Regions from separate parts of the Homo sapiens genome. Here all the other regions are linked to region 1. Evidence: fine-mapped expression QTL. A gene starts in region 1. Each other region holds a variant in brackets. All regions are shown on one strand. Distances are between the middles of the regions.

Region 1 (5,149 bases):
AGGGCAGCAGGCTGGACATGTTGAGACCATTCCTTTGGATTTCCAGTAGAGAATTTTCCTACACACACACACACACACACACACACACACACACACTCTCACATACATTCTCACACAACAGACACATGTCAGTGCTCACAGGGCCTTGCCCACAGACAGACACATACCCGTAGAAACACACATGCCATGCACTCAGACATCACCTCACTTCTCAACAGTTAATCTCACTTCACAGGCGTGAAGCCATACTCACCCATGGTTTCCAACCTCTGGGCTTTGGTCAGTGTCTGTTTCCTTCCTCAGCCCCTCCTTTCCTTCTTCCCTTCCATTGTTCGGGTTGGAAGGATTTGGAGAGGCCTATGTGTTGAGCCAAGGCAGGAAAACACAGAAGACGGTGTGCCCCAGCTAGTGTGGACATGGGAGGGGACAGCTGGTCCCTGCCCTCAGTTCAAACCACCAGTCACCTGTGGGGAAGGGCTTGGCGGCTAAACAGGAGCTCTTTCCCTGGGGCTTGGAGTCCACCTTTCCCACCTCTGCAGCTCAGATACCAATTCTATTTTTTTTTTTTTCTACATTAATGGGTTGGGTTTGAGAAAGTCCGTGGAGCTTATTTGGGAGTAAAGGATGGGGGGCGGGAGGATCCTTCTGATTGTTCGCATTTCGAGAAGGGTAGTTTTAGCCCATAACTCACCATGGAGGGCCCTTCCAGGAGACGTCGGGCAGGGCTTTCCTACAGCGGAACCGGGAGGCCGCCCCGTGAGGGCAGAAGCTCCCGCCAGGAGCCAGCACCACCAGCAGAGTGTGGAACCCCCAGAGGTCCTAGCCTCCTCCACGGGGCCTCCCAGGTGCTAAGTGGGGAGATGGGGAGAGGGTTCTGCCCTCTACTTGGAAATGCCTGGCCGTGTTCGTGGAGCCTGGGAGGTGCGGAGGAGCGGCGACGCGGCCATGGCGCTAGGCGCGCAAAGGCCCCGACACCTTACTAGGGCGGCGGCGGGCCCGTGGCACCGCTCCCGGCACCGAACAGGGCACAGCACTGGGGACACCTCTCTGCAGGGACCCAAGACGCGCGTGCGTGTGCGCCCCACGCCAGGCCCTCGCTCTCTTGCGGAGACTCCGCCGCATCGCTGGCTGCACCTGCCTCTCTCTTCTCGGCATTACTTGGGGGAAAGGGGACTCTTCACTGGACCTTTGCAGAGGTGGCTGCTACCCTTTGGCCACATAAATCAAGAAGGCAAGCCAGCCTCACCTTCCAGGAACCTCCAGCCTTCCGGCTGCGTCCCCGCCCCTCCCGCCTGGCCAGCTCCTCCCCCGCTTCTCCCAGCGCTCTTGCGCGCCTCGCTGCGCCTCTGCGCGCCGCTCGCTGTCCTCTGCCTCGCCTCCCCATTCTCCTTCCGCATCTTCTCCAGTGCTCCGCCGAGGGCGCTGCCTGCGGGGAAGAGGGAGACTGAGCCGTTAGTGAGGAAGTTCGGTCTGTGGACAAGTGTGGTGCCAGGCCGCCGCGAGGCTCGGCTGCAACCTGTTCCTCGCCCGCCGGTGCTCGCCGCCCGCCCGCTCGCACTCCCGCCCTCTCGGCGGCGCAGCCGCGGATCGCTGTTGCATGCTGATCCGGGGAGGCGGCGGTGGCGAGCGCTCCGGGCGGATGCTGGCACTCAGGCTTCGCTGCTCTCTGGATGCTGCTCAACTTCTAGCCCAAGCGCAGGAGCTTTGAAGTCATTTGTCCCTTTTCGCTTGGATCGACTTCTTATTTTGAGATTTTGGGCATTGCGGTTTACGCAGGAACCTCAATATCGCTCTCCCCACCTCCCTCCCTCTTTCTCCAACCTTTGGATGCGTCTCTGCTGGCAGATATAAAGACCCAAGTCTTCGCGGTGGAATTTCTTAGATGGACTTGCAGGGGCTGGCGTTATAAAGCATGTCATCGTAACCCCGTCCTCGTCTTTGTTTATTTTTTTTTAAAGTTCTTTTGTTTTCATTTTCCCCTCCTTCCCACCCCTTCCCCCAACCAATAAATCACCAAACTGTTACCTAGCGGGCCGGTGCCTGCCTCTCTCCCTGAACTAGGTGGTGCGTCTGCCAGAAGAGGAGCTATGTTTGAAGAGCAGCCTACTCCACCCCTCTCCTCTCTGGTCCCTGAACACCACCACACACTGGCATTTTGAAAAAAATATTTTCCTCCAGAAACTGGGCACCCCCAAGCCCTACCACCCGCTTTTTTTTTCTTTTTTCTTTTTTTTTTTTTTCCTTCTTGAGGAATGGAGCTTCGCAGAGGTTGCATTTAGATTCAACAGTTCACAGCGGCGGGCTGCTGCTGCTGCCTCTCCGAAGAGCTCGCGGAGCTCCCCAGAGGCGGTGGTCCCCGTGCTTGTCTGGATGCGGCTCTGAGTCTCCGTGTGTCTTTCTGCTTGTTGCTGTGTGCGGGTGTTCGGCCGCGATCACCTTTGTGTGTCTTCTGTCTGTTTAAACCTCAGGATGGCTCGCTTCGGGGAGGCGGTGGTCGCCAGGCCAGGGTCCGGCGATGGAGACTCGGACCAGAGCAGGAACCGGCAAGGAACCCCCGTGCCGGCCTCGGGGCAGGCGGCCGCCTACAAGCAGACGAAAGCACAGAGGGCGCGGACTATGGCTTTGTACAACCCCATTCCCGTCCGGCAGAACTGTTTCACCGTCAACAGATCCCTGTTCATCTTCGGAGAAGATAACATTGTCAGGAAATATGCCAAGAAGCTCATCGATTGGCCATATCCTTTCTTGCCCACCATAACTCCCTCTCCCCCTTTGCATTTCTTCGGGTGAAGGGGGGTACCTAGCATGGAATGTATCCCCCACCCCTTCCTGGTGCCAATTTGCCCCTTTGCTGAAGCACACTCTTCGGTGCATCTAAGGGGCAAGCTTGGTGCCGTGGAGACCCGTTTGGGCACTAGTGTTTTTCAAGGTAAGACTTTTGGTTTTTTATTTTTCCTATGTGGAAATCTTTAGTGTCCCTGGGTGCATCCCTTTCTGGGCTGGGCTTTGTCTGATTCCCAGCCCCCTCCCCACCCCTACTCCCTTCACATGCCGCCCTCTACATAGATTGGGTTGCCCCAATGCTTCCTTTCATAATTAATTCTCATTTTCCTTTCTTTAAGCCAGCCACTCTGCCCGTATCCCCACCAACCAGGAGACACCGCACTGTCTTCCTGTAGGGAAGTCAAGGCTCCATGAGGGGATTTATCAGTTCAGAAGTTCCCAGGGCCAAAACCCTGTGTACAGATAGACAAATGAATAAATAAAACAGGCTTTTGGGTGGGGACTCAGCTAACTCTAGGGACTTAAGTTTAAGTTCCACTGAAAGTGGCATGAGTGAGTGTCTGTCAGGGGAGGTGATCTCTGTTGCCACAGCCCAAGGAGCTCAAACTTGGAGTTCTCCTCTCAGCCAAGAAAGAGCAGCTCATCAGGCCCATCCTGTCCTTGGTCCTTGGTTGGGTACTCTTGCTTCTTAGTGCTTGACCCAGCTGATTGCTCTCCCAGTATCCAGGATCCAGGTGGATCGGCTGGGCCTGAATTCATCCGCTGAGGCCAGAGGTGTGCATGCAGTCTCTCTCTCCCTAGCTCCAAAGGAACTGCTCTCCCCAAAGCACTGGTGGGGGCCATCTCTGATGGTGGTGGTGTCAGGGTGAACAGGCATGGAAGGAGCTTCTTTGCAGGTTTAATCAAGTGCACCAAATGCAGACTGCTGATTAGGCAGCTCACTGCCTTGTTCTTCACTAAGGATTGGACGCCTGGCAAGGCCATTGGGAATTGGGGGTGGTGAGGCAGTGAAGGGGATTAGTAGGAGGCAAGCTAGTGGTCTGGCGTTAAATATGGGGATGGGGTTGGAGACATGGGACTTTGGGAGGGAGATTTGGGAGGGATGCATCTGCAATGGAGGCCCCTTCTTTTCTCCCCTATTCTCCCTCTTTCCCACCCCCACCGTCCAGGTGTGCAGCAGTGAGGCAGCTGGAGCTGCCTTGGGTCTCTAGTATTAGCCAGACACGCGGCTCATTTCCCCCAGGGCCTGGGCATCTCCCTACTCCCCCAACCCCAGTCTCTGGCCTTCCCCTTCTTCTCTAGTTCCCTGCCTCAGCAGCTCGGTGATTGGCTGGCGCGTGGTGCTTCTAGGCAGCACCCCCTCATTAGAAACGAAGGAGCATCTCTAAGCAGATATTCTTCCTGCTGCTGTTCGCATCCTCCCACAGCAACCCCGGCTGGGCTTCTCCCTCTCTCCTCTCTGCATCCCGCTCCCCTGCTCCACTCTCACAGAGTGATCCCAGGCCATCCATTGCCTGAGTTGAACGTATCTAGCTAGGGTGGAGGTTTCGGGCGGGGGAGGGGTCGGGTCCCTGCAGTCACGCCTGCCGGTGCGCTGCACAAAGCGGACAGATCTCATTGTGTTGTGTGCTGCGGCTGCAAATATTCCTCTAGGCAGTCTACGGATTTCCCAGCTGGGCCCTCCTTTCTCACTCGGCTTCTACGGTTCTCTAAATCTTCCCATCCACCAGGTGCTGCCTTGCTGTGCCCCTCTCTTAGGGGCGTGTTTATTCAGACAGGCGCCCTCCCGTTTCTTTGCGGTAGACAAAGCCGCCCAACCGCCCCGCGGGTGGCAAAGTGTGCCAGCAGCCATCGTTGGCACCTCGGACAGCGCCGCTGAAACTCCCGGCGGCCCGGGGCTCCCCAGTTACCCGGGTTCAGCACCTCGGGTACTTCTGGCCGGGCCCAGCCTTGGAGCTGAGAAACCAGGCACGTTTCCTACACCACGTGGTCACCTTTTTTCACGTTTTCTCTTCCGCTGCAAAGACACCGCCTTTCCACCAGGCGTTGCGAGCGCGCAAGGTGCGGCTGTGAGTCTTACTCCTCCCTTTCCTTGTCTTTGGCCAAAAATGGACCAAAGAGAGTCAAACGGGAGACTCTCGAGGGAGTTGATTTCAGCATCATGCTCAGTGCCTTGGCCCCGAGCCCTGTCCCAATGGTCTCTTTTGTCTGCATAGTTGGAAATTTCACAGTGGTTCTACAGCATGTAGGCTGTGGTAACAGTGTTCAGGGAACATCTGCTAAGGTGTTTAGTGGAGCCCTGTTGGAAAATATAAAATACACCATGTACAATGTAATTGACTAATATATTCCCTCTGGTGGTGAC
Region 2 (5,149 bases), 22 kb after region 1:
TGATGGTCATAACTATTGCTATGTCTGGGTTTTAGGCACAAGGTCTTATGTCTTCGGCATTACTCGTCCCTCCAGGACAGATGTATCTTTCTCAGTCGGCTCAGACGAGGGTCATATGATCTCACCAGCATGATCTCACTGCATTTCCATCAGGGTCTGTGGGAACTGGAGCCAGACTTCTGTGATGGTTCAACCCCTCCTGTTCTTAGCCCTGGCCTGGGGTGTGATTAATATCCCTTCTAATCACTGGGAGAGATTGCATCAGAGCCATCAGCTTCATAAATCCTCCTCTGGGGACTGGTGTTTGGATGCGCTTTCCATATTCTCAGGAGGTTCTGGGCCAAATGTCTTTGCTCTTTTCCTGGAGGCCCATTACCATAATTTTCTTTTAAATCCTTTATTGGAGTTGGTCTCCTCTGTGTCAGTCCATGGCTACAGCCAGCCAGCCCACTCCTGAGGGCTGGAGGCTGTAACCACCAACAGATGCTTTCCCCAAAGTATTGAGCCACAGTAGATGCTGAAAGATTGAGTTAGTAGGATACTGAAAGTAACTGTATTTGTGCAACACTTTACAGTTTTCAGAGGGAGTTCAGATTCCGGTATCATTTTAGGCTTCAGTCCTTTTGTATTTCTTGTTTGGTTCTGTGGGAATGGATGGTCATAACCCTTCATTGACTCTTGAGTACTGTGTTGGGACAGCTTTTGCAGTCGGAGGCCTGGCTCTGGTTTCCTTTACCAAGCTACATTTTTTCCATTGCATTCCAGGTCTTGAAGAAGATTCTGAAGTTACACGGAAGGCTTGGATAGCTGTATTTCATTCCTGTTCATATGTAAAATGTCTATTTGGTGTCATGCTAATAGGGAATCACAGACTAGTTAAGGCTCTTTCTCTGTTACTGTCTTTGAGTCAAAGTCCACTTATTAGGATGATATTTATGTGCACATGAAGAAGAGGTGGAAAGACATGCATGAAGGTGTCCATGCCATCCTCTGAGGCTGTTACATCTCTTGGATTTAGACATCCAAAAACATGAGACTGAAGGGAGAAAAGGAGACAGGTCTTCCTGTAGGGTCTGGGGTGAGGGGTGGAAATGGGTAAAGGAGGCTGAGGAATGCCTCCCCTCAGACTGTGGACTCTTCTATACCCCCCCAGGAGTTTCCAGGAAGTGCCTGAGTGCCCACCGACTGCTCCCCACAAAAGCATATTCTGCATTAGGCTGAAGTTGGGAGAGTGCACAGCATTCTATCTGCCTGCCTGTCAGAGCATGGCCTTCTTAGTGTTCGGATGTCATAGGCTCTGGGAGGAGACAGCTAAGTACAGAGGTCTTCAGGATGAGCCCCCTGGTGGTGATAGAGATGCATGTTTGCCTGGGGACACCCAATATTTACTGCCTGAGGCCTAAGTCCTTCCCAAGCATGTACCTACAGATCTGTACCTGAGAGGTGATGATGAGGAGGCTTTTCAGGCTCAGGCAGATGAAGAGCTCAGCTCCAGGCCAGGCCCCCAGGGCTCCGGTGACAGCAGAACCAGCATCACCACCCTTGCCCCAGCTTTCTGTGCTTCAAGAAGGAAATGAACAAATGGCAGGTGTGCAGGCCACGTCGTGCTGCTCAAATTAGCCATGTTGCTAAGGAAACAAGTCAACCATTCAAAGGAAGGAGCATTGGGTAAAGGAGATAAATCAATAAGTGAACCTATTTTTATCATTTCCCTAATGATTGTCTTGAAACTGCTAGACTAGAAAGAGAGTTGGAGCAACACAGGTCCTCATTAATGGGCTCAGAGGGAACGAGGAGTGAAGGGGTGTTTGAGGAGATTGCCAGTAAAGTTTATGAAATGAGGCCTCTAGTGAGCAGTGAGCTGGTACAGGAGGGAAGGCAGGAAGGAAGATGTCTTTTGCAAGTTTCAAAGTGGTTTCATGGTCATTTCCTCATTTTGGCCAGGTCCCTTCATTCTCTTGCATTTAATCCTCTCCGAAGTCTTTTTCTGATTTCTCTGGCCATCGCATTCCTCCTCACTCTCAGGTTGGGATGGGTTTTTGTGTTGATTTGTTCTTTTCAGGATACATATAGCTTTAATTGATTTTGTAGTGATAAATGAACACATGCTCATTTGAACACTCAGAAAATGGTTAGAGGAGTAAAGAAGAAAGTGAAAATAACCCTGCTACCGAGAGAAGACTCATCATCCTTCCAG[C/T]AAGACAGAATTTTTTCTTGTTCTCTCCCTTCTCTTTTTTTTTGTTTTTGTTTTTTTTGAGACGGAGTCTTGCTGTGTTGCCCAGGCTGGAATGCAGTCGCACGATCTCAGCTCACTGCAAGCTCTGCCTCCCAGGTTCACGCCATTCTCCTGCCTCAGCCTCCTGAGTAGCTGGGACTACAGGTGCGTGCCACCATGCCTGGCTAACATTTTGTATTTTTTTTAGTAGAGATGGGGTTTCACCGTGTTAGCCAGGATGATCTTGATCTCCTGACCTCGTGATCTGCCCACCTCGGCTTCTGAAAGTGCTGGGATTACAGGCGTGAGCCACCGCACCTGGCCTTCTCTTTTTTTTTTTAAACATGAAAGGGATCTTCCATGTATGCTGGTTTATTTTCTTTTTTAAATAGGTCATGTGTGTCTACAGTGGACAGTATAAAAAGTTCAAATGGGTATACAGTGTGGAGAGTGTGGGTACCTTTTGTAAGGATACCTCTGGCTCTAGTTTCCCTGTATGATTCATTTATCAATTGAATATTAATTTATTAATAAAATAACAGTTACCGGGGCCCCACTGTGTGCCAAGTACAGTGGTGAGTGAGGCAGGCAAGGTCCTGCCCTGGGGCTCCCAGTCCTTACTGCCCCATCATCTCCATTTGTTCAAGATTTCAAAACACAAGCAATCTGGATACCAGGGATAGATATTCTTCCCTAAAATATGCACAGTGTCAGGCACAGAGTGTAATGAGTGTCACTGAATTCTAGAACAGAGAGTCAGAGTCCTGGACAGACTTCCATCTTGTCCCTGATTGTGGTTGCCATGAAGGGTGATGGTCTTTGAGGCCGTGGCGACTCGGAGCTCCCTTTGACCTTTCTAAGTCATGTCTTTGTCCAGTCTGCCAGGTTGAGGGGCACTAGCTTGACTGGTGGGTGGGTGTTATTTGCCGTCTAGGCTCTTCACTTTGGGGATGTAGCAGAGCCATTGCTTTGGGGTGTGAAGTTTTGCTGTCGGGAAGAAATGGGAGTGGTGCCTCGGAGGCAGCCTGCAAGGGTGGGAGTGAGCAGGAGCCATGGCTCAGGCCAGAGTGGGTGAGCAAAGCCCTGTCTTTGTAATGGCTCCTTAGTGAATGCCTCATGTTCATTCTTACCTGCATTGAACATTGACTAAGCTCCTACTATATACCATGGGCTCTGCTAAGCACTGCCAGTAGAGACATGAGCAAAACTCCTGCTTTCAAGATATAGTTTCTTGATTTAAATAGGAGAAGAAATAATACAGTCACACAATTCAAAGAGCTGTGGGGCACGGGGAGAAACTTTCACTGACAAGGTGGCATTTCAGCTTGGTCTTGATGTATGACTGGAAAGGAGAAGAAACGCCATTGCATGTGGTGGCAGAAGCACCTAGATGTAAATGCCTCTTTTTTGTGCTTTCTTCAGAAAGGGAAGTGGAAAAGAGTTTAAAGAACAGGGCTGTAAGGGAGAGTGGCTGGGGCCTAGGCAGACTTGGATGGTCTCTTCTGCTCACCTCCCCTGAGATTTCCCTGCCACTATCCATTCTTTCACCTAGCCCACAGTTACACAGAATCTCCACATTCTCACTGCAGGTTCTTCATTACCGCAGCCATGAATTCATCCTGAGGTCTAGATGCCCTATAAGGCTGAAAGGGACATCCCTCTCAAGGGCATATATATCTGAACAATTTTAAAAATGTAAAGCAAAAAAAAAAATATTTTTAAGCCAGAAGATTGCTGCTGTGAATGGGCCTCACATCAGATAGTGGGAAGAGGATTTGGCTGGAGAGGAAGTGAGAATAGGGTCTTCTTAGAACCTGTGAATTACCAAACTCCCACCTTTAGATTCTAGACTTTAGGGCCTTGGGTAGCACCAGCCATCAAGACCTCATGAATTCTCAGCCACCCAGATACCTGGCCAGTCACTGGGAGTTTGACTCATCAGCACCTGGGCCAAGAGCCATTCCGCTGCCTGGAGCATCTTCCGGTGGTGTTGGCTACACCTTCCTGAGCTAGCCTGTGTCCCCACAAACCTCACATATCTGCCCTTGGACATTCTGGACTAGTTGAGCTTAAAGGTCCTTATAGGGAGCAATATACTTGGGTTAACTGGCTAGGAAAATGCAGGTATGGGTGTGGAAGCAGGGAGCTGGGGCAGTGGAGGAACTGCCATGGTCCAAGGGGATATTGTGAGTGGAGAGTCAGGGGCAGTGGAGGAGCTGCCATGGTCCAAGTGGGTATTGTGAGTGGGGAGGCCTCGGAGGCACATGGCTGCCAGGACCTGTCTTGCCTGCAGGCTCAGCACTGAGAACCCATCTACTTTGAAGCCTGTGCTTATCACTTTCAGGTTTTCAGGGGAAGAAGATTCAACCCCCCAAAACAATCATAGACCCCACATAGACCCATTAGAATGCGAGAGGTCTGCAGCTTGAACGAGAAAGTACTTGTGCCCAGTCCTACCTTCCAGGGCAGGCACTGGGCTTCTTGGATCTGCTGAGCAGGTGTCTGAAATTGCATGAGACGTTTCCAGCTGTGAGGAGTGACCAGGTGAGCCCCACACTGTTGTGAACACTTTTGTTAGGAACCAGGACAGGGGATGACATGGAAGAGGCCCTGGTTTCACTCCAGTCAGATCCATCATCCCTCCTGCCCCAGCTCTTGGGGACTGGCAGACAGACCCCCACTTTGTGTCAGGCTGCCCAGGTATGTTCCTGGGAACACCGTTCAAAAGAGATGCTCTGAAAAAAAGAGTTACAAGGTGAAGCAAGTTTGGGAAATGTTGTGTGCTGTCCCAAACGCCTTGTGTGTGTGTGTGTGTGTGTGTGTGTGATGGGGTGTGTGCCCACTGTATGCAAAAGTATTAAAGGCCCCAAGAAGTCCTGCTGGGGAGAAACCTGCTTAACTTTGCCCAACCCAGGCTTTCTCTCATTGGTTGAT
Region 3 (5,149 bases), 42 kb after region 1:
TTCTCCAATAAGCAAATTCAAGTTTGGGGTGGGATCTCCCTACTGGGAATCTGATCAGGTCAAAGTTTGACTAGCTAGTACTGCAAATAAAGGAGGAGGAACTTCCAATGATTTCCACTCCCCCCAGCTGTGACTGGTCTGAACTCTAAGCAACAAGAAGTCACCTACAAGCACTGGCTGTTTCCTGAATAAAGTTTCCCTCAAATATGTAACATAGTATATTTTGTAGTGTGTGGATGCTGTTGTGATTTATAAAATATAAATACATCTAAAAGTATTGTTGAATGAGTAGTATTGTTTTCTTTTTTAATTTATTCAATATAGCATAGTGATTAAGAATTTGGGCTTCATAGACAAGCAAACCTGAATTCATATCTTTGCTCTACTGTTTTCTAGTACTGTGGTTGTGGGCAAGTGACCCAGCTTCTGTTAAGTCTCAATGTCTCCATCTGCATAGAAAAAGGAATGGCTCTGGGTAATAACAATTATTTAACCATGTTGTTAAGGGGCTATAGTAATTGAAATAACTCCTCCAAGGGATGGGGTTGGTCTTGAATTTGTGACATTAAAAAGAGAGCCTCACACTTGAAAGAATGAGAATTGCTAGTTCAGTGTAACTAACCCATTGATATGAAAGAAGGAGATGAGGCCCAGAACTGCAATGTATGCCCCATTTTGCCTGTGGCTAAAGCCTGATTTTAGTCAAGCTGGTCTTCAGTCTTGTGTAGAGGTGATGGGGAAAGTAGAAGTAGAAGTTAGATACAATGCTTCACTCGTGAACAGAACAGTCTAATTGGAGTTCACGAGATATATGGCCCGTGTTTGATTTTTGGTATTTGGTAGTGGAGGTCTGGGAGTTGGGAGCAAGCAGCTGTCATCCTTTTGGGAAGCCATGCTGTCCCCAGCAGGTGACACCCCAAGTCTCTTTGCCAGTGAGGCCCCACCACCCCACACTAGTATGAGTTAGGTTGCTCATGCAGAGCCATTTCTCAGGCATTATTCCTAACTCTTTTCCTTTTCATAAAGTGAGAGGGCTTATGCTCATCCCTCAACCAGACTATGAAAGAGACACTCACATTCCCAAGTGGTGGTTTTATTTTTTTATATTTTATGTTTGTATGGGAAATTGTGGATAAAGTGAAATAATTATAAATAAATGGTATGTTTCCTTTTTTAAAAAAGAGCAATCTAATTGGAATAGAATGTATGTGTGGTCCTAAGGCAGCTGGGAACAATGTGACCCGTACAGAGCTTGTTCCAGGTTGGCTGGTCCAGGCTATAGGAGTCTCATTTTTAAAATCTAAAATACCTCTCTTGCAAGATTTATGTACTAGATTAAGCAGGGCTAGATGCTCTAACAAATAACCCCCCAAATTTCAATGGGTTAACATAGTAGGTTCTCTCTTGCTCCTTGAACAGGCCAGTGTGTCCTGAACAGTGCTCCTGGCTTCCCTCCACTTGGTGAGGTAGAGACCCAGGCTCCTTCTATCTGGTAGCTCTGCTGTCCTCTATGATCTCGTGGTTTATGTCCCTTCAAGAGAAGTGGAAAGAGAGAGTAAGAATAAGGCATACTCCTTAAATGTATTGGTATAGAACTGATACACATTACTTCTAGTCACATCCCATTGACAAGGAACAGCCATGTGGCTCAGCCTAGTTGCAGGTGAGACTGGGAGATCTAATCCCTAATTGGGCAGCTGCCTTCTAGCAACAACCTTGCCCTGTGGGAAGGAGAGCATCAATTTTGGAGGACAGTAATGATCTCTTCATTATCTATGTGAGTATAAATTGTCAGATGCATAGGAGATATATAATAAATGTTTTCTTCTAATTATTAGTAACATCCATTGAGTCAAGAAATATTTGCTATGTGTGTACAAAACATTTTGCTAAGTATTGAGGCTAGAAAGATAAATAATAAGATACCTGCCCCCAAGGAACTTTAAGTCTGATGTGTAGATAGTATATATAGGTAGATGATTTTCATTTGAGCTTGACAACATTTGATCAGAAGAAAAAACTGGGAATAAATGTGCTCTACTCTGTGCAATCAGCTTTCTATCTGTCCATCTATCCTCCTTTCATTGAATGGGTCCCATGTGTAAGGCCTAGCGGTGAGCAGTAGGAGGGACAGCAGTAGAGTTAAATAGGGAAGAGATGGAAGATCACTGGGAATGTGGTTTCACTTTGCCCTAATGCAGCAGCTGTTGACACACTACATGCTGGTGTAACTAGCCATTGAACTGTTGTTGCCACCTCTCTTGATCAAGCTTTGAAGATAAGCATGAGAAACAATTAGTGTATTTCATATTTTTTTTATTTTTGTTGTCATGCTTATTTTTGTCCTCTTCAAGATAGCAAAGCCTAGGGGTAGTCAGCCAGCTGAGGCTATTTATAAAATGTCCATGTTGGCCTGGATATCACTACTGGTTAACATTTGTCAAACTCTAAACTCTGTAGTCTAGTAAAACAGAGGATCAGGAGCCAGTTTCAGAGGGAAAACCAACCTTTCCATTTACTAATTTCTTTTCTATCCTTAGCCTGCACAAAGAAGGTTGAGAAGTCAGAATTTTAGTTATGAACTGTGTGCAACTACAACAAATAGAGTCAGTAGTAAATAAATGGTTGTCACGAGTCTTTGGAGAAGGATTTATTATTGTGGCCATAGATTGGAGTGGTCCTTGAGGATGTTAATTATGTTGCTGCTTGTTGCAGTTTATGACATGGCTTCTATGTGGGGTAATTGGATCTAGG[G/A]GAGCTATCCTTTTCCATGGAAAAAGGCCAGTTTGGTCTCAGGTTTATAGCCCTAAGGAAAGGAGTTTCAGAAAGCAGTTGCCCAAATTTTTCAGCCTCCTTGATATTTCCAGTGCACAATTCTGGAAAAGGGCTCCTTAATTCAGAAATTGGCCTTTGTTGCAGGGATGCTAGGTCAGGAGGCAGGGAGGGGAAGAATGGAAAGGAGAGCAGAGATTACCTAGTTATTCAGGACTGTGGACCTAATTAATAGCTGGTGTTCAGTGCTAATCACTGCATTAAACATTTCAAAGGATTTTTAAAAAATTCTTGGCAACATCCCTGTGAGGTAGGTACTATTATAATCACTACTAGATGAGGAAACCAGGGCTTAGGTGGTTCAGTAATTCCCCCATATCATGCTGCTAATAGTTAGTTGGTGGGGTCAGGATTCCAATGAGGAAGCCTGACTCCAGAGCTTAGGTTTCTGACCGTGATGCTACACTGCCTTCCTAATTTATGTATCTAGTGGCTGCATGGTCTGAATTTTTTTTTTTTTTTTTACTCCTGATGCATCTTAATTAACAAAAGTGAAAGGGTGTATCTGTTGGTCTGGATGTCAAAATCCATCCAAGGGAATATAAAACTCACTACTTGGTTTTAGTTACTGGAAAAATGGCTTCTATTGAAGGGAATTAAGAGAACAATAGATTATTGGTTTTTCTATATCATTTTGATCTTGAAATCAATTTAGAAATATTGTCCATTTAGCCTGTTAACAATAGGTTAGAGTTATAACACAGGACAGCCTGGCAAGATGCAAGGAACAAAGGCTCTGGCATGACATAGTTCTGTATTTGAAGTCTGCTTCTGGCTTTGTGACACTGAGCAAGTTATTTAACCTCTCATCCTCAATTTCCTTACTGGGAAATGAAGGATTTAGGGTATTTCTGAGTATTTTATGAGACTAAACTGGTATGATATATGTTGAGCATTTGAAACAGTGCTCTGCACATAGTAGATTTTCAACAATAGTACCTGCTACTATTTTATAGTTTATTGATGAGGAAAGGGAAGCATATAATGAACAAATATATTCTCTGGGTTACTCTAGCCCCCACAAAAAACTTGCCCTAGCTGGGATGAAGTTGTTGTCCTTGTATTTTCAATCTGTTGCTACTTGTGCTGGATTATGCTAGCTTCTAGAACATACTAAATCTTGAGTTAATTTCTTAGTCCATTTGGACAGCTATATCAAAAGTATCATAGACCAGGTGGCTTATAAACAACAGAAATTTATTTCTCAACATTCTGGAGACTGGGAAGTCCATGATCAAAGCAGATTCAGTGCCTGGCAAAGGCCCCTTTCCTGGCTGCTGGACAGCTGTCTGTGTCCTCACATGGTAGAAGGGGTGAGGGAGCTCTCTGGTGTCTCTTTTGTAAGGACACTAATCCCATATAAGAGCAGAGTCCTCATGACCTAATACCTTCTAAAGGCTGAACCTCCAAATATCACATTGGGGATTAGGTTTCAACATATGGATTTTGGGGATACACAAACATTCAGTCTATTACAGTGGGCTTTAGAGTCCTGGAATCACTTCATCTTTGATCTGTATTTATAGCTTAATTTATCTTGATACAGGTTTCAAAATATAATTGAATAGCTACACTCACTTGATAATATTAAAGTAGGGCTATATCTTTAAGGCACAGTATCAGCTGGCTGTGAACAAAATGCTGGCTGATATATATGGTCTTCTTTTTCTCTCTGTATTCTTTTTTGAATTCTCATTCCAGTTCTGGTTTTAAATGTACCTTCAGTAAATAGATCCTCTTTATTTCCCTTCTAGTTCATTACTTACTTCCCATGCCTTCCTACTTATATAATCAAAATCTCATGATAGTTCTATGTTGTTTTTGTTGCTTTCCAATTACTTATCTGAGTCTTCCTCTTTTGAGAGAATATAACACCTTAATATTTATTGTAATAAATGGTTTGTTTTTATTCTTTTCCTTTATTTTATTTGCTATTTATTAGACTTTATTACTGTTTCTTCATTTTTCTTCTTACTTCTTTCTGTATTGATCAGCATCTTTTAAACCAGTTTTTTATAATTATCTACTGGATTATCAAACTCTTGTGGTGAAGACCATTTTTTATCTGTTTCATTTTACTCCCCATCTTTCCACTTCTGATATGGTTTGGTTGTGTCCCTACCCAAATCTCAACTTGTTGTATCTCCCACAATTCCCACATGTTGTGGGAGGGGCCCGGGGTGGGGGGGGCAGTAATTGAATCATGGGGGCTGGACTTTCCCATGCTATTCTCATGATAGTGAATAAGTCTCATGAGATCTGCTGGGTTTATCAGGGGTTTCCACTTTTGCTTCTTCCTCATTTTTCTCTTCCTGCT
Region 4 (5,149 bases), 47 kb before region 1:
GGCAAATTGCTTAACCGCTCTGGGTATGTCCTTATCTGTAAAGTGGTGATTATAATAGTGCTCACCTCATAGGTCTGTTGTGCAAATTAAATGAGAGAGACATATAAAGTGCTTATCATAGTTCCTGGCAGATAGTAAATGATCCATAAATGTTAGTTTTACCATTTCCCTATTTTTGGACACTTAAGTGGCTTAATTTTTTTTACTATTATAAATTAATCAGTTTATCAGTAACAAATATTTATTGAGTACTTACTACTGGCCAATTTTTTTTTTTTTTAAATACTAGAAATTACAGGGGTAACCAAGACCAGACAAGTGTCTGATCTCATGGAATTTAAATTTTAATGGGAGACATGATCAATAAGCAGGGTAAGTTTGGATATGGAAAAGGCTATCAATCACATACAACAAGATGATGCCCTGAGCTTCAGGTAGGGTGGGCAGCGAGGAGCTTTCTGAGTTAGGTGATGTGTGAGCAGACATCTGAATGACAAGGGGGAGATCTGGGGAAGAGCAAGTTAAAGACCTTGAAGTGGAAGTGAACTTGAGGAGTTCAATCAAAATTCAGAAGCAGGGAGCGCAGGGGGTTTGGTGTGGTGGGAGGAGCTACGGGAGGTGGGCAGGAGCCACCTGGTCAGGGAACACTTCGGAGCTCAGGGTGAGGACTGTGGACTTCATTGCAAGGTGTGAGACATGCACTGGAGGCTTCCGTGCAGCGGAGGGATGCCTACTCAGTGGTGTGCTGGAGCGGGCTCATGGGAGCTTCTGAGAGCCTCTTGGCACGTCTCTTCCCAGCTCCTTATTCAGTGAAATCATGTTGATAAGTGGCTTGATCTGGGTTGCAGACAGTTACAGATTCTCCTCGATTTATCAGGACACAATCTGATCAACCCATTGTAAGTGAAAAATATCATCAGTCAAAACTGCATTTAACACCATCTAAACCCTTCCTAAAGTCAAAAGATCATAAGTCAAACCATCATAAGCCCAGGACTGTCTATATTTATAACACAGGAGTTTATAGCAGATGCTACTCTTCCCCTAGAGAGCTAGTTGTTAAATGTTTACCAGCACACCACTGGAACAAACTAATCTAGGTTTTAAAAAATTCTCTTTGCCTATGCTCTGTGAAGAATGAATTACAGGGAGGCAATATGCAGTTTTGACTGTAGTTTTGAGAATTTCCTTAGGATAAATTACTGGAAGTGAAATTACTACAGAAAATTATCTAATTGCTCCCCCTACTGAAAATGTTCATCATTTATACCTCCACTAGCAGCAAGGTACCATTTCCTTGTACTCTTACTCACACTTAGCTTTAGCCACCCCCATAGAATGTTCCTTCTATCTAGAACTTTGCATTCTGTTCTCTATGTGTAGCTGATTATTTATTTATTTATTTATTAATCCTTCAGGTCTGGTCTCACATCTCTCTTCTCAGAGGACTTTCCTGACCACTCTATTTCATTGTAATTACTTATTTGCCAGAACCATGGCCATTTATTTATGTCTAGGACAGGGTCTGCCACATAGTAGGCTCCCAATATATATTATTGAATGAATGAATGCATCCGCCTACCTTTCTGAATTCTCAAATTGATACTAATACAGTCAAAGGAGTTCCTTTCCTTGGAATGTCTAGGATTGGCTTTTTTCAGCTTAATGATATTTCTGGAGTTGAGGTATATTAAGTCCAAAGAGTTCAATAATTGATAACAAAATACTGTGCAATAACCTAACATTATAACAAGATATTTTGCAATAAAATGCAGCTTTAAAACATCTGTTATCCAAGTGAAGTGATGACTCACAGAGAAAATATTTCCAAACCATACATCTGATAAGGAGTTAATATTAAAAAGATATGAGGAACTCAAACGACTTAAGAGCAAGAAAACAAATAACCCTATTAAAAAATGGGCAGGGGACCTGAACAGACATTTCTCAAAAGAAGACACACAGATGGCCAGCAGATCCATGAAAAGATGCTCAACATCACTAATCATCAGGGAAATGCAAATTTAACCACAGTGAGATATCAGTTCACACCTGTTAGAATGGCTATAATAAAAGAGACAAACAATGAATGTTGGTGAAAATGTAGAGAGAAGGAAATTCTTATGTATTGTTGGTAGAATGTAAATTGATACAGCCATTATGGAAAATAGTATGGCGGTTCTTTAAAAGCTAAAAACAGGACTACCATATGATCCAGTAGTCCCACTTCTGGGTATATATCCAAAGGAGATGAATCAATATTTTGAAGAGATATCCACACTCCCATGTTCATTGTCTCATTATTCACAATAGCTAAGATATGCAAGCAAGCTAAGTGTCTATCAATGGGTTAATGGATTAAGAAAATATGGTGTGTATACACAATGAAATACTTTCAGCCTTAGAAAGAAGAAAATTGTCATTTGTGACAACATGGGTGAACCTGGAGCATATTATGCTAAGTGAAATAAACAGGCACCGAAATGCCAATATCATATGAGCTCACTTATATGTGGAACCCAAGAAAGTTGAACTCAGACATACAGAGTACAATGGTGGTTACAGAGGCTGGGGACGAGGGGGGTGGATGAGAAAGGGGTGAGGTTGTTCAAAGGGTACAACATTTTAGT[TAGAC/T]AGGAGGAATGTGTTTTAGAGATCTGTTGCACAGCATGTTACTATAGTTAATAATAGCAGATTGCGTATTTCAAAATTGCGAAAACAGTAGATTTTAAATGTTCTCACCACAAATAGGTATATGAGGTGATGGATATGTTAATTAGCTTGATTTTATCATGTAAAATCTACAATTTAAATATATATGAAAACATCACATTAAACCCCATAAATATATACAATTATTATGTCAATTAAAATGAATTAAAATAATAGAAAACCCCCAAAAAAGCATGTTATCCATTAAAACACGAAAAACCAAGAGCCGTCAATAACTGCATGTTTCTAGTGAGACTACAGCAATTTCTCTGTGCACTTGCCAGAGGCTTCTCTGACATGTGGTCACCCTGGAGCCCATGCAACACCCTCTTATTGCCACAGACTTCTGTGCTCACTGCATGGCCAATATGTGTAGACTAACTTCTGACAGTTTTATATTCTCTTTTAAAATTTTCCACATTTGCTCTTGATCTCATTCTTTCTTTTTTCTGTGCTATAAATTTCTCCAGCTCTACTAGATCATCCCACCAGTGTAAAAACATGCAATAGAATGTCACATATAAGAACAAAACACAAGAATCCTTGCTACCTCATACGCCTCTTTATCCTCGGTCCCATTTCTCTGCTCTCCTGTATAGCAAAACTTCTCAGAAAAGTGGCGAATGTTGTCCCCACTTTCTCATCTCCTGCCCCTCCTAACCACTCTAACAGGTGGTCTGCTCACAAAAACTGCTCTTGTTCAGGTCATTAGTGATGCCCACATTCCTGAGTCCCATGGTTCTTTCTCTGTCTTTATTTGATTTGACTTCTCAGAGTACTTAGACTCTCATTCTTGAAGCATTTGCTTCTCTGGCTTTTGTGGTAGCATGCTGTTCTAGTTTTCCTATTTCACTGGCTGTCCCATTCCAGTCTCTGTTGCTGGTTCTTGCTCCTCTGCTATACCCCTGATGTAGGTGTGCCCCAGGGCTGGCTTCTGGGCCCTCTTCTCTTCTCTGTCTATGCTCACTCCCAGGATCTCACCCATTTTTGTAGGTTTACATAAATCCACATGTAAATGACTCCCACATTTATAGATTCAGCCTTCATCTCTCCTCTGAGCTCCTGAGGCTGAAATCCAGCTGTTCCCTTGACATCTTAACTCAGGTGTCTAATGAGAGTCTTCAACTGAACAGGTCCAAGGAACTTTTGACTTATGCCATCCTCCAGTCTATTCCTCCTCATGTCTTCCTTTCCCCACAAATGACACTACCATCTATGGTGTGGCTCCAATTCCAGATTATACTAAACAGTTAAGGGAGGTGTGTGGTGAGAATGGTGGCCATACTCCCTTGGGGTGCTGTCACCAGGACCAGTCTTGAGCCCAGTTCAGCCCTCCTTGTTTAGTAGCATATGTCTCAGAACATGATATGCACGGCCACTTCCACCCACTGCTTTCACTTCCGGCCCCTTTTCTTAGGAGTTTTGGTCTCATAATGGCTCTAGAAGCAGAGGAACTGAAGGCTAGAGTGGGCAAAAGTATTCTCTCTACTTCCAAAATTATATTCATGCAAGAGAAGTTGACTTCCTGGTTTTCTGGGTAGTACAATCCCTAGGTCCATATGATGTGGAGCTGGAATTGTGGATGGGGAATGGTGCATTTATGGAAATTCTTTCAGGGCAGTAGGTTTGTTCCAATTCCATTCTCATTTTTAAAAATACCATTTGCTTTTGCCTTTTTATTTTTTTAAATCATCAGGTGGGGAGTGGGAAAGTCTAAATCAAAGACTGTCATTCAGATGGTATTTTAGGCTAGAAATCCCCAATATAGAAATACAAATATAAACAATTAGGAGAAATTTATTTATACCCATGAGAATGGCAAAATTCAGAAAGGTGGATCATACCACTCTTGTCACTGATGAGGGAGATGGAAATTTGCACGCGTACACTGGTGGGAGCATAACTGGTACGCTTATTTTGGAAGAATCTAGTGAAGTGAAATGTGTGCCTGACCTATAATCCAGCAATCCCACTCTTGGGTATATATGTCCTAGATAAATTCTGAAAAGATGTGTACAAAGATTTCATTGTAGTATTTTACTTGTGATAGCAGGGACTTAGAGGCAACCTAGGTACCCATTCCAAGGGAATAGATAAAGTGTGGTGGAGCATCTATGGGAGGGATATGCAGTGGAGAAGCGACAGCCTAAACACATATAGCAGCATGGTTAGATTTTCACAACAGTGTTGAGTAAAAAACAATAGGAACTGGATGAGATTTATAACATATTATGACTTATATGTTAAGTTAAAAACATACCTACCAAACTTTTCCTATTTGATTTGGATATTTGAATATTTAAGTTTGTATGTTAAATATGTCAGAGATGGTACCCATGCTAGGCAGGGGGTTGAAGGGGGAAAAAGCCCTGTAGCATCTGGAGTCAATTCAGACATAGAGAATAATAATATGTCTAAAATTAAAGACAGAGATTTC

Alleles and levels. Positions count from the first base shown, and alleles are read on the strand shown. Sizes are in standard deviations (SD) of each study's normalised expression. Not every link is listed here.
As copies of TAGAC replace T in region 4, the expression in testis of the gene that starts at base 2,242 in region 1 goes down (small effect, 0.33 SD a copy in GTEx).

Evidence for each region. PIP is the estimated chance that this variant, and not a neighbour inherited with it, causes the effect.
Region 2: its variant is the best candidate, but not a certain one, in a credible set for the expression of CACNA1E in whole blood (TOPMed, PIP 0.88).
Region 3: its variant is the best candidate, but not a certain one, in a credible set for the expression of CACNA1E in whole blood (INTERVAL, PIP 0.82).
Region 4: its variant is the best candidate, but not a certain one, in a credible set for the expression of CACNA1E in testis (GTEx, PIP 0.73).

Annotation. Positions count from the first base shown.
Region 1 is chr1:181,481,276-181,486,424 of GRCh38, forward strand. CACNA1E (calcium voltage-gated channel subunit alpha1 E) reads left to right here and starts at 2,242. Exons shown (of 48, transcript NM_001205293.3): 1 at 2,242-2,735. The coding sequence starts at 2,470. RefSeq lists enhancers at 433-965, 1,017-1,146, 1,949-2,473, 2,474-2,997, 3,960-4,089 and silencers at 1,297-1,426, 1,467-1,596.
Region 2 is chr1:181,503,135-181,508,283 of GRCh38, forward strand. The region is part of intron 1 of CACNA1E (calcium voltage-gated channel subunit alpha1 E); the gene reads left to right. Among named protein-coding and RNA genes, the nearest start is that of CACNA1E, 22 kb to the left of the region's middle. RefSeq lists enhancers at 1,591-1,710, 2,131-2,360. The variant C/T (reference allele first, on the strand shown) is at 2,198.
Region 3 is chr1:181,523,134-181,528,282 of GRCh38, forward strand. All of the region lies in intron 3 of CACNA1E (calcium voltage-gated channel subunit alpha1 E), which reads left to right. Among named protein-coding and RNA genes, the nearest start is that of CACNA1E, 42 kb to the left of the region's middle. The variant G/A (reference allele first, on the strand shown) is at 2,755.
Region 4 is chr1:181,434,129-181,439,277 of GRCh38, forward strand. It overlaps a transcript of CACNA1E not described here. Among named protein-coding and RNA genes, the nearest start is that of CACNA1E, 47 kb to the right of the region's middle. The variant TAGAC/T (reference allele first, on the strand shown) is at 2,631.